2 linked regions of the Homo sapiens genome follow. The protein of the gene in region 2 interacts with the protein of the main gene of each other region in a pairwise test. Each region holds a gene or a part of one and is shown on either strand. Other genes may lie near its edges.

The links. Proteins that work in one complex are often made in the same cells at the same time.
Region 1: the proteins of CCDC150 (region 2) and PSMB5 interact in binary tests that used the Homo sapiens proteins (3 or more experiments, as listed by UniProt).

The regions. Positions count from the first base shown.
Region 1 is NC_000014.9:23,025,340-23,031,911, reverse strand, and holds the end of PSMB5 (proteasome subunit beta type-5), read left to right. Parts: intron 1-4,082; coding exon of another isoform or gene 4,083-4,167; intron 4,168-5,536; coding exon 5,537-5,823; 3' UTR 5,824-6,056; downstream 6,057-6,572. UniProt on the Homo sapiens protein: Component of the 20S core proteasome complex involved in the proteolytic degradation of most intracellular proteins. This complex plays numerous essential roles within the cell by associating with different regulatory particles.
Region 2 is NC_000002.12:196,635,021-196,642,720, forward strand, and holds the start of CCDC150 (coiled-coil domain-containing protein 150), read left to right. Parts: upstream 1-4,694; 5' UTR 4,695-4,746; coding exon 4,747-4,758; intron 4,759-7,700.

The DNA.
Region 1 (6,572 bases), on a different chromosome or scaffold from region 2:
TCACCATGTTGGCCAGGCTGGTCTTGAACTCCTGACCTCAGGTGATCTGCCCACCTCAGCCTGCCAAAGTGTTGAGATTACAGGAGTGAGCCATTGCGCCTAGTCCTGGGCTCATTTCTTTTATTTCTTTGCTGGTTATAATCACCCTTACAATCATGCTAGGTCCGGTTCTATCATCTCTGAAAATAAGTTCCTTAGCCTGTTTTTCCTTTCCAGCATTTAAGAAACTTGCCAGACAGTTCAACTTTGTATTTAATGTCATTTCCTCATCAGCCAGTTTTGAATTGCCCGTTTAGTAAAGTTGGAGTATAGCTAGTCACCTTCTAATTTTCCCTTCCATATGCTTAAAAATAATTATTCTTTCCTCCTTTTGATTTTGCTTCATTCATTTACCTGCTTACTAAATACCTAGTTATCTTATAGAACAATTATAGGGTACCTACCACTTTTTCACTTGCTTTCAAACGAGAATAGAAAGGGCTGTAGGGAGTATCCACTTACTACCCAATGGAGGATGAAAGGAAATTAAAAACCGGATGTGAGAGAGGAGCTCACTTTGTTACTTTGGAAATTGAGATGCTTTTCTCTGAAAGGTGGGAAAAGACAGTTCCATACATTTTACGTGATCCAGGGAAGCATTTTGGAAATGTTGCTTTGAACCTTTAGCTGGCGGATTTGTTCTAGGTGATGGAAACAGTGTAAAAGAGTACAGGGACCGGGTAACAAGGAAAATCCAGGGAGACTGAGCATCATTTAAACAGTGCCTTCTTCAAGAGGCCTTCCTGATGACCCTGTCCCATTCATTGTGAGTCAGCCCCTTGCCTCATATTACAGTTGGCCCTTGAGCAACATGGGTTTGAATCACTCAGGTCCACTTATACGCAGGTATTTTTCAACCTAATTCTGATTGAAAATACACATTCCCAGAATTTGAAACCCAAATATACAGAGGACCAATTTATTTATTTATTTATTTATTTATTTTTGAGATGGAGTTTTCCTCTTGTCACCCATGCTGGAGTGCAATGGCGCGATCTCAGTTCATTGCAACCTCCACCTCCTGGGTTCAAGTGATCTCCTGCCTCAGCCTCCCGAGTAGCTGGGATTACAGACACCCGCCACCCTGCCAGCTAACTTTTGTATTTTTAGTAGAGACAGGGTTTCACCATGTTGGCCAGGCTGGTCTTAAACTCCTGACCTCGGGTGATCCACCTGCCTCAGCCTCCCAAAGTGCTGGGTGGCGTGAGCCACCATATCTGGCCAACTTTTCATATATGCAGGTTCTGCAGGGCCAACTTTGGGACTTGAGTGTGCATAGATTTTGGTATATGCAGGGGTCTTGGGACAAATCCCCTTCATATACCAAAGGATGACTAGTTAACCCAAGGCTGAATAAGATAAATAACCTTTTTTTTTTTTTATTGAGACGGAGTCTCGCTCTGTCGCCCAGGCTGGAGTGCAGTGGTGCCATCTCTGCTCACTGCAAGCTCCGCCTCCCGGATTCACGCCATTCTCCTGCCTCAGCCTCCCGAGTAGCTGGGACTACAGGTGCCCGCCACCACGCCCGGCTAATTTTTTGTATTTTTAGTAGAGACGGGGTTTCACTGTGTTAGCCAGGATGGTCTCAATCTCCTGACCTCATGATCCACCCGCCTCGGCCTCCCAAAGTGCTGGGATTGCAGGCGTGAGCCACAGCTCCTGGCCTGATAAATACCGTTTTTAAAAGAACCAGTTGGCTGGGCATGGTGGCTCATGCCTGTAATCTCAGCACTTTGGGAGGCCGAGATGGGTGGATCACCGGAGATCAGGAGTTCGAGACCAGCCTGACCAACATGGTGGAACCTTGTCTCTACTAAAAATACAAAATTATTGGGAGGCCGAGGCGGGCGGATCACGAGGCCAGGAGATCGAGACCATCCTGGCTAACACGGTGAAACCCCATCTCTACTAAAAATACAAAAAATTAGCTGGGCGTGGTGGTGGTCGCCTGTAGTCCCAGCTACTTGGGAGGCTGAGGCAGGAGAATGGCGTGAACCCAGGAGGTGGAGCTTGCAGTGAGCTGAGATCGTGCCACTGCACTCCAGACTGGGCAACAGAGCAAGACTCCATCTCAAAAAAAAAAAATACAAAATTAGCCGGCTGTGGTGGCACATGCCTGTAATCCCAGCTACTCAGGGAGATGAGGCAGGAGAATCTCTTGAACCCTGGAGGTGCATGCCTGTAATCCCAGCTACTCAGGAGGCTGAGGCAGGAGAATCAATCACTTGAACCTGGGAGGCAGAGGTTGCAGTAAGCTGAGATTGTGCCATTGCACTCCAGCTTGGGAAACAAGAAAGAAACTTTGTCTCAAAAATCAGTCAGTCAATCAATAAATAAAAAGAACCAGTCAAATGCGGAAGGAGTTTTGAGGAGGAAGAGATTACTTATGATGGGAGGAATTGGGGAAGACTTCATGGATTGGTGGTGGTTGTCCTGGATGTAAAAAAGGGAAAGGGAACATAACAAAGAAAGGGAGGAAAGAAGCATGAGCTTTTGAGGAGTAACTGAAAGTCCAGTTTAATTGGAACTAAGTGGGTGAAGGGGAATAGTGAGCCATAAAGCCAGAAGGGTACTTTGGAACCAGATGATGACCCCCCTCTAGGCAAGAGAGCATGGCACTGGGGCTGAGGAGGGGCCAGAGAAAGGAGTAAGGTAGACATCAGAATCACCTGAACCTGAAAACCAATAAGGGCAGAGGTGCTCAAGCTGGCTTGCATTAAAATCACCTGGGGGACTTAAAAAACAAGTTCCATACCTGTTTCCCACCCCACACCAGTTATAAAAAATACCTAGGGTAAGTCCTGTGCATTTTTGAAAAAAATCTTTGTTAGATGACTCTAGTGCACAGTGAGATGTGAGAATCACTGAAACAGGAAAAAGAGTAGTGATGCTATTGGCAGAATTTCAGAAGACAGGAGGAAGCGTGGGTTTGTGGCGCACAAGAGAGATGAGTGTGGTAGGTAATGGAGAACCACTGGTATCTAAGTTTAGGAAGTTTGAATCTGTACATGATGACAAAGACATCCAGCTGGAGGGATCCAGTAGGCAGTTGGGATTGAACACTTTGTCTAAATTTTCATCTGTACCAAAAGTCAGCTAGTTTTTTCATAAAGGGCCAAATAGTAAATATTTTAGGTCTGCAGGCCTAAATCTTTGTCTCAAATACTTAACTCTGCCGGTGTTGCACAAAACAACCATAGACAGTATGGAAACAGTGGCTCTGTTCCAATAACATTTTAATTACAAAAATAAAGGCAGTTGGCCTGGCCAAACCCTGGTCTATACCAGCAATAGAAATATAATGTGAGCCATATATGTAATTTTACATTTTATACTAGCTACGCTTTTAAAATTAAAAAAAATTAATTTCAATATATTTTGTTTAACCTAATAAATCCAAAATATTATGTTAGCAGGTAGTACTAGTTCATTTCAAATGCTCAACTAGTCCTGTGTGGCTAGTGGCTACCATATGGACAGTGCAGGTCTTTACAATGTGATTACAAACTCTAGGCTTTATTATCCTCCTGTGTAAAGTATGTCTTGTTCTCCAGATAGTCTAAACTCTTTGAGTTCTGGCATTATGGAGTTTGTTTTTCTGTCACACAGGCTGCAGTGCAGTGGCATAATCACAGCTCACTGTAGCCTCAACCTCCTGGGCTCAAGTGACTGGGATTATGGGGTCTTTTGATGGGGGAGTGGGGATTATGTTTTGTTTGTTTGTTTTTTGAGACAGAGTTTCACTCTTGTTGCCCAGGCTGGAGTGCAGTGGTGCGATCTCGGCTCACTGCAAACTCCACCTCCCAGGTTCAAGTGATTCTCCTGCCTCCGCCTCCTGAGTAGCTGGGATTACAGGCATGCGCCACCACGCCTGGCTAATTTTGTATTTTTAGTAGAGACAGGGTTTCTCCATGTTGGTCAGGCTTGTCTTGAACTCCTGACCTCAGGTGACCCACCTGCCTCGGCCTCCCAAAGTGCTGGGATTACGGGTTTGAGCCACTGCGCCTGGCCGGGGATTATGTTTTAAATGTTATCTTTCACAGTGTCTGAAGTTCTGTGCTTGAAACCTAAGTCATTTGGAATGTACTTGTTTTGTGGGTGTGCTGAGAGGATCGGCAACATGGCAAGGTAGTTATTATAATATAAGGTGAGATGGGGTGGTATGTTGTAGAATCCTGGAGTCTTAATATTAAATTTTATTCCTTCAGGTTTTTTTTTTTTCCTGAAGACAGCATCTCAGTCTGTTGCCCAAGCTGGAGTGTGGTGGTGTGATTATAGCTTACTGCAGCCTGCAAGTCCTGAGCTCAAACAATCCTCCTGTTTCAACCTCCCACAGACATGCACCACCACACTCAGCTAGCTTTTAAAAAAATAATAATAATTTTATAGAAGTCCTATCTTGTATTTATGTTGGCTTCCCTGGGTTTCTCTTTTATATATATATATATTATTTTATTTATTTATTATTATTATTATTATTTTTTTTTTTTTTGAGACAAAGTCTTGCTCTGTCTCCCAGGCTGGAGTGCAGTGGCGCGATCTCGGCTCACCGCAAGCTCCGCCTCCCGGGTTTACGCCATTCTCCTGCCTCAGCCTCCTGAGTAGCTGGGACTGCAGGCGACCGCAACCACACCTGGCTAATTTTTTGTTTTTTAGTAGAGACGGGGTTTCACCGTGTTAGCCAGGATGATCTCGATCTCCTGACCTCGTGATCCACCCGCCTCGGCCTCCCAAAGTGCTGGGATTACAGGCGTTAGCCACCGCGCCTGGCCTATTTATTATATTATTTTGAGACAGCGTTTCACTCTTGTTGCCCAGGCTGGAGTGCAATGGCGCGATCTTGGCTTACCGCAACCTTTGCCTCCCAGGTTCAAGTGATTCTCCTGCATCAGCCTCCTGAGTAGCTGGGATTATAGGCATGTGCCACCACGCCTGGCAAATTTTGTATTTTTAGTAGAGATGGGGTTTCTTCATGTTGGTCAGGCTGGTCTCAAACGCCTGACCTCAGGTGATCTGCCCACCTCAGCCTCCCAAAGTGCTGGGATTACAGGCATGAGCCACCGCGCCCGGCCTATTTTTTTATTTTTTTAAATTTTATTCTAGGTTTTAAGAGAACTACTGCTGGCCGGGCGAGGTGGCTCACGCCTGTAATCCCAGCACTTTGGGAGTCCGAGAAGGGCAGATCCCCAGAGGTCAGGAGTTCAAGACCAGCCTGACCAACATGGTGAAACCCCGTCTCTACTAAAAATACAAAAATTAGCTGGGCGTGGTTACGAGCGCTTGTAATCCTAGCTACCTGGGAAACTGAGGCAGGAGAATCACTTTAACCCAGGAGGCGGAGGTTGTGGTGAGCCGAGATTGCGCCATTGCACTCTAGCTTGGGCAACAAGAGCAAAACTCCATCTCAAAAAAAAAGAACTACTGCCTTGGCATATGAATTAGATATCAAAAGGGGTGATCTTTTTTTTTTTCCTGCTAACCTCATCTCCCTTTCCAGGCCTCTACTACGTGGACAGTGAAGGGAACCGGATTTCAGGGGCCACCTTCTCTGTAGGTTCTGGCTCTGTGTATGCATATGGGGTCATGGATCGGGGCTATTCCTATGACCTGGAAGTGGAGCAGGCCTATGATCTGGCCCGTCGAGCCATCTACCAAGCCACCTACAGAGATGCCTACTCAGGAGGTGCAGTCAACCTCTACCACGTGCGGGAGGATGGCTGGATCCGAGTCTCCAGTGACAATGTGGCTGATCTACATGAGAAGTATAGTGGCTCTACCCCCTGAAAGAGGGTGGATGCAGCTGCTTGTGTTTCTTGGGGTGACTGTCATTGGTAATACGGACACAGTGACCCATCCTCCATCCTATTTATAGTGGAAGGGCCTTCAATTGTATCAGTACTTTTTTTTAAGCTCTGGCACATTGACCTCTATGTGTTACCAGTCATTAATGAGCTGCTGCAGAGGTGACTATTTGTTTTACTTTCTTGGATGTTAACATTACACTACTCACTACTCAATCTCAGCCTGTGTTGCATCTTTTGTCCACACTGTCCCTCCTCCAAGCACTTTTCAGTCAAATAAGCCAGGACAGTGGAAGGGAAGTGACTGTAATTACAGGAAACAGTGGTGTGAAGACATTGTCTAGTGAATACATTAATGTCCCCACTCATGAAGCTAATAACGGAGAAGGAGAGAGAGGCAGGGAGGAGGGAGACACTTCTCGATTTGGTTTACAAAGAGATGAAAAGTTGATGAGGTGGAAAGATGCACAGGGCTGTACCAGGCAGGGCTCCAGCGGAAAAGGCTGTCACCCTGTGGTGGGGGAAGGGAGGCTGAGGCTACATGCAGAGCGGAAGGGTGAAGAGGGTAAATCTTGACTCTTAAACCAACTGGGAAGGGAAGGCTTGGACCCTGGGAAGGGGAGGACAAAGAAGTGGCTGTGAAAGCAGTAGTAACCACAAGCTTGGTGACCCTTGTCCTTTTGGTCCTCCAGTGCATATGTGTGGAGGGGAGAGGGTAGTGATGGTGATTTT
Region 2 (7,700 bases):
TGAGACTCTGTTTCCAAAAAAAAGAAAAAGAAAGACCAATATCCCCCACAAACACAGACACAAGAATACTCAACAAATTATTATTAAATTGGGTCTAGAAATATATAAAAAAGGAAAATACAGAATGATTAAGTGGGATTTATCCAAAGAATGCAAGATTGTTTCAATGTGGGAAAACTCAACCAATGTAATTTACCAGATTACCAAACTAAAGAAAAAAACCATGATTATCTAAATGGCATTTGACAAATTCAAATTTCTTTCCAAAAAAACTCTCAGCAGACTAGAAATGAAAGGAAATTGCCTGGATATGATTAAGGACAACTGTAAAAACCGATGACTAACATCATACTTAATGGGAACAAGATAAGGACATCCTTCTTTCACCACTGCTATTCAATATCATAGTAAAAGTTTTAGCCAGTGCAACAAGGCAAGAAAAACAAAGTCATTCAGATTGAAAGGGAAAGAAAAAACTCTATTTGCAGATGTCAGAATTGTTTATGTAAAAAAATCCCAAATAACACACGAAAAAAATTCTAAAGCTAGTCCTAAAACTAGTAAGAGAGTTTAGCAAGGTCATAGGATAAGAGCTCAAAATACAAAAGTCAATTATATTTCTATGTACTAGCAACAAACAATGGATTTGAAATTTAAAAAAAAAACTAGTAACAAAAAGTGGAAAACTTAAACACAAATCTAAAAAAAATATAGTATCTATATATTGAAAACTATAAGATACTAATTAAAGAAACCAAAGAAGACCTTAGATATGTGGAGAGATACATTATCTTGGTTTGGATGAAAAATTATATGGTCACACTATCTACACAGGTAATAAAAGGTACTTTTATTTCTTTTGTATATTCCCAGTGCTTATTTATACAAATATAAAATTCTTATCCCCCCTGGCATTACACAATACCTCACTTGTTCAACTTAAAATATATCCTATAGAATTTTCCATATAAGTACATAGACATTTTCCTCATAAAAAAATTTTTATTGTGAAAATAATTTTAGACACACAGAAAATTTGTAAGAATGGCATAGTAAATACTCACATACCACCACCTGGATTTCCTTATTTTCTTTGATAAACATGGTATTTGATTGTGTGAAGTTAATTCATATATTTCTCATTGAATAGTTAGATGCTGAAAATTCTGTCTTACCCCACTGCTGTCAGATGGGGTGGAGAATGGTAGGAGATGGAGTCTAACCAAAATGCATAAGCTTTGAAGCGAGATAGAGCCAACTCCAAATAACCATTCTGTCACTTATTGGCTGTATGGCCTTTAGGCAAGTTACTTAACTTCCCCCGGTGTCAGTTACTTCATAAGTAAAATGAGAATATAACTACTACACCAAAGGTTACAGTCAGAATCATGTGGTGATATGATAAAGTACAAAAGAGTACTTTAATCTTAGGAAAGGTAAAATAGAGCTGCAGCAGTGTCATCATAGCCTTGACCTTATTCATAAGTTTGGTTAATGGAACAAGGTGAAAATCTACCTGACTATAAAATTTAGTTGGTGGAGCTAAGTGACAGAGACCGTATAAGAAGCACTGTTATCCTTGGCCATTTCAATTAATAGAATTATCTTCTCAGCCGTGGCCGGGCGCGGTGGCTCACGCCTGTAATCCCAGCACTTTGGGAGACGCGAAGTGGGCGGATCACGAGGTCCAGAGATCGAGACCATCCTGGCTAACGTGATGAAACCCCGTCTCTACTAAAAATACAAAAAAATTAGTGGGGCGTGGTGGCGGGCACCTGTGGTCCCAGCTGAGGCAGGAGAATGGTGTGAACCCAGGAGGCAGAGCTTGCAGTGAGCAGAGATCAAGCCACTGCACTCCAGCCTGGGCGACAGAGTGAGACTCCGTCTCAAAAAAAAAAAAGAATTATCTTCTCAGCCTTGGGCTGATTCACCAGTTCATTAAAAAGCCAAAGACTCTTTCAAATCCTAATCTCTATACCCAGAGCCAATACTTTACCAAAATATCTGGATTGCCCACATAAGGTGAGGAGCCAGTTAGTGAATTTGCCATTTTTATTCTTTTATTTTACCAACAAGATATGAAAACTTTGGGTGTTCTGTTTGCATTTCTTTGTCCACGGAATACATTTCCAACTCCAAGGGGAAGTAGTTGCAGGGAACTTTACTGCCATTCGTGTAACTACAATGTCAAATCATCTGCAGCGTATATTCTATTTGGAGGCCTTTTCCTGGCTTACAAGTAGAGAGTGAAACACAGCCTCTATTAGTAGAGCCGTTTCAAAATTTATTCATTCACTCACCTAACAAAAACTTTCCAAACCCCTACTGTGTGCCGGGCATTGTACTTGGTGTTGAAAAGAAAAAAACAAATTCCTGTCCTTAAGTAGCTTACAGCTCAAATAAGGGGAAATAAGATACATTGACAATTATGAAGTGCTTTGGGAGAGAATAGAATGGCTTCACAGAAGAGGCTAAGTTTCTGTTGAGCTGGTGAGACTGACAAGAGGAAGGCCGTGCGCAGCAGAGTGAGCATAACCTGCAAGCACAAAGACATTCTATGGTAGCAGGCTTGACTTCAGAGTTCCACTGGGGCACTAGGTGCAGAGTAGGCTGGAGGGTTTGGCTGAAGCTATTACCAGTTTGGTCTTCATCCTGCTCAATGGAAAACTTTTCGTTCAATGGGGGAACGATTAAATGTTTTTAAGCAAAGACCTGAGATAATCAGATTTACTTTTTTAAAAGATCTGGTAGCCATATGAAGGATACTTTGGAAGGGGTAATAGGAAAACCAGTTAGGAGGTTATCGCAGTGAAACAGAATGTGGTCTTCATGGAATATCTAGGATTTCCGTGAATGAAATGATCTTGTTTGATAAATGGGGTAATGTCTGAGAACTATTTATCAACTGAAAATCAAGAGGGAAATCAGCAAGAAAATCGGTATGTTTGGCATTATTTCAATCAAAATCCTGGCAGAATTTTTGTAGGTATCAACAAGTTGATTCAAAAAATTTGGGAGAAAGGTAAAGGAACTAGAAAGTTAAAGGAACAGCCAAAACAAATTTGAAAAAGGACAAAGTTGGAGGACTATACTCCCTGATTTCAAGTTTATTGAAGACTTCAGGTCCTTTTCTCTAACTCTGTAATTGCTTAAGTTCTTATACGGTTTGCCAGACAGTGAATAAGGGAAAACAAATGAAAAACACGAATTTAATCAGTTTGGTTCCCTGACTGCTGCTTAATATGGAGATTTGAGGAGAAGGTGAAAACTCTCATTACACAAAAACACGTGGATACATGTATCACTCATCTCTTAATTCCACTGATAAACCAGAGGTCATTGCAAGATAAAACATACATAATGAAAATAATTGGCTGTTTGCACTGACGCTTTAAAATACATTTTCATTTCCTATTAAAAGCTTTATTTGGTCCCTTTCTCTGAATAATGTATGCAGTGCTCATTTCTCTTCACCGGATCGGCTCAAAGCTTGATGAATATGGCTGTGGTTTGATGGGCAGTCTCTGCATCTCACATTGAGGCTCCGCTATGAAAAGAATTAGAATAGCAAGATCAATTGTCAGGCTAAGTAAATGAGCTCTCATCTCGGATCTGATTGCTTATATGAGAGGGCTGAAGTGATTCTTGGCTGCACTCTCAGGGAGAAGAGAGAAATGCATTTTAATTGCCCTGGCAGGGATAACAGGTGTTCTGTCCAGCTACCAAAACGCAAAGCCGCGTCTTTGCACTATAGAAGGCTTTCCCTTAAGTGAGAATACATATTCTTAAAGCAAAACAACTCAGAAACGCTGGTGTGGTGATGCACGCCTGTAATCCCAGGACTTTGGGAGGCCGAGGTGGGCGGATGGCTCGAGCCCAAAGAGACCAGCCTGAGCAATATGGTGATGACCCCGCCTCCACGAAAAAATACAAAAATTAGCCAGACGTGGTGGCGCGCGCCTGTGGTCCCAGATACTGGGGAGGCTGAGATGGGAGGATCGCTTGAGCTCGGGAGGTCGAGGCTGCAGTGAGTCGAGATCGCACCACCGTAATCCACCCTTGGCGACAGAGGAAGACCCTATCTCAAAAAAGCAAACCACCAAAAAAACCAGGGACAGCTCAATGCTCTTTTCCGTTTCATAGCTACTTACACTCAGATTTACAAATACCTATTAACTTGTAGACAGGGCAAGAAATAATTTATGCTGAAGAGACGAAAGACCTGAAAACAGATTTCTGTGTTTTACTCTCCATGTGGCCATCATGGACGAGGACGAAGAGGGACTTGATTTTTCCTTTAACGAGAAGAATGTTTAAGCTCTGAATTTTTAACCAATTTTTATGCTCGTTACTCTGCTGTAGGGTATGTATTTACCAAGATTAGCAGAACACCGCGAGTTCACCAGGCGGAGACAAGTCACTGTGAAGTGGGCAGCACAGGACCCCCCGGAGGGCAGGCGCCGGAAACTACATATCCCGGCGTGCCCCGCTCGCGAGCACAGTGGAGCCTGCCGCCATTCGGTTCACGGCGCTACGCATTCCCTGAGCGCCGCCGGATGCCGGCCTGGGTCCCGCCCAGGGCTGAGGGCCCTCCTGGGCCGGGAAAACTACAGTTCCCGACATGCCCTGCCACGGGTGCGCCTGCGTACCGGAGCTACTGCGCCGGGGAGCGGGTTGGTTTAAAATGCTGTGTTAGTTCCACGGAAACCCGCTCGCCTGCTGCAGTACGGAGCCTCAGGCGGACAGATGGACTGTAAGGTGAGGCTGCCGGGCCCCGGGCTGGTGAGGGGTGGTCGGAGGCTCGCGAGGCTTCGGCTCAGATAAGGACAGTCACCACTCCCTGGCGCCCTCTCCCTGTCCTGACGGAGTCCAGTCTCACTCCCTGGACCTCAGGGCCCTGATTTAAGGCGCTTTGGCGTTGGCTGCCGGTGAAAGCCATTTAGGAGCGAAGTTTGCATTGGCCTGGCTCCAGCTGAGGGATGGGAGATAGCCACCGAAGCCTCCAGATAAGCCCAATACCACCTTTATTTATGTGTTAAGTTGGAGTTTAATAGGTTCCTGGGAAGGCTATTTCGGCGTTAATGTTTGATTTTTGCCACCAGTTAATCCTCCCTGGCTTGCTTACCAGAATATAGGTGTCAGGAATTTGCACTTGTTCTTTACGGTTTCCGCAGTACCTGGCGCTCTTGCTAGAACGGAATAGACATTCGTTAAATTCCTGTCGAAGTATTCTCCTGTTTATTTACCACCTATAATTTCCCAGGCACTGTATTAGGCTCTAAAGATAGAAAAATGTCTATTTTTAACCCCACTTTAGAGAAGTTCGTATTAGTCCGTCTTAAATGCCCCCCAACACATGCTTCTAATTTGTTAATCTTGGCGTGCTCAGGACTAGGTCCTTTAATCCTTTGTGTTCTCTGTTATCCCGCCTTATGGTTTTCTTGAGCTCTTCAGAAATTAGTCTCCAGTCCACACCTCACCCCCAAACTTCAGATCCACAAATTCAATAATGTATTTGGTATCTTTCATGTTTTAAATTTGACATTTTAAAAACTACTCTTTATCTTTTCCACAAAACGGATTCTTCCTTAATAAGTTTGCATTGTCTCAGTGATAGCACCATCCAGGCCAAAAACCCTGTAGTAATCTTGGCTTCTTCCTTTCCCTCATATCTCATATCTAATGCATCAGCAAAAGCTATCTTTCAAGTATATCTAACCACTAACCACTTCTTACAGTAGGAATACCGCTGCTGTCACCTTGGTTCTGGCCAGCAGCATCTCTACTTCTGCTTTTGTTCTTCCACCATTTGGAGTGGGAGGGAGTCAAAATGATCCAGTTAAAAGGAAAGTTGGATAGCATTCCTCAGCTATAGACCTCCAGTGACTCTGAGAATCACTGACAGCAAAAGCCAGACTTCTACAATGGCCTTCAAGGCTCTGTGTATTCTGTTTTTTGTTTTTTTGAAACGGAGTCTCGCTCTGTCGCCCAGGCTGGAGTGCAGCAGTCTCAGCTCACTGCAAGCTCCGCCTCCTGGGTTCACACCATTCTCCTGCCTCAGCCATCCGAGTAGCTGAAACTACAGGAGCACGCCACCACGCCCGGCTAATTTTTTTTTTATTTTTATTTTTGTATTTTTAGTGAGACGGGGTTTCGCCGTGTTAGCCAGGATGGTCTCGATCTCCTGACCTCTTGATCTGCCCGCCTCGGCCTTCCAAAGTGCTGGGATTACAGGCGTGAGCCACCGCGCCCAGCCGTATTCTGGTTTTATTATTACCGTCTGACCTCATCTCTCAATGTTCTCTGTGTTACTCCTTCCTCTCCAGCCAAACCCACCTCTTTATTATGTGCGGACTCATCAGACCTTCTAACTTCAGGCCTTTGCACTTGCTGTTTCCGTCTTCTGGGCCTTTCTGCCCTCTGATATCTATATAACAGGTCTTTGCTCAAATGTTATGAGGCCTTCTTTGACCACCCTGTTTAAAATGAAAATCTGCCCTGTAGCCTCCATACCATGTTCTTTCCTATTTCATTTTCCTCCTTTGCACTTATCACCAATAAACAAACTATGTATTTTACTTAGTGTCTGTCTTCTTCAGCTGGAATATAAGCTCCACGAAGGCAGGGAGTTTTGTTCGTACTGTTCTACCCAACCCCTGCCCCCCGCCTCATTGCCTATAACAGTGTGTGGCTCATGGTAAATGTTCAGGAAATATTTGTTAGATGTGTGAGTGAATGAAGACAGTGTTACCATATTATTTTCTAGTGGTTGTGATAAACAACATTGACTCCCTGGACTGTTATTTTGGAACCAACAGCATGTACTTGTATACGCTTTTGCCAGTGTACACCTATTGCCAGGTGTAGGAATGGAGCCTGTGTCCACAGAAGCATGTGTTCTCTTTTCAAAGTCATCTGGTTTTTACTAGTATATTACTTGTGACATTGGTCTTTTTCTTGCCATGCTTTCCATAAGGTTACCTGCCTAGAAGCTCTTTGGAAATATTCTCCCTAAACATCAAGACAGAATTCTGTTAGTTTGATAATAATATATGCATAGAAATTAGTTATGAATGAACTTTTTTAAAAATAAAAGTTTATATCTCAGTATTTTTATTATTGTTACTATCAAGCGTTAGGACTTAGGTTCAAGGCAGCAATCAATATTTGCTCCTTTTCAAACACAACAAAGCACAGATATGTTAAAGCTGTTGTCTCTTTGCTAGAATGTCAGCCATTAGAGGTAGATTGTTTTCATGTAAGACTGTGCTTCTTAGACTATGAGCCATAGAACTATGACTTATGAGGATCTGCCAAGTGGCCATTGGAGAGTGTGCGTGTATTTATGTATGTAGGGGTGTGGGTGGCATTTCTGCTACCACTGCTTTGGGCCTACCAGATGGGGAGGACAGGCAAGGGTATGAGCAACTGCAGTGAAAATGAGAATCTCTCTCTAACTTTAAGCCCCAACTTGGTAGATTAATTTACTGGATTGAAAGTTCTTATCTCATACTTTAACAGCCTCCCAGATACTCGGGGACTCTGCCTGGTGGCTTTAAGGCTGTCCTCTTGCTACTCAGCCATTACCGCCCCCTCCCTTGCTTCCAAGGACTCTCCTGACCTTGGCATTGTTTGGTTTTTGTTTTTGTTTTCCCATGGCGGGAAGTGGAGGTGGTGGTTGGGAGGGAAGGTTTTTAACT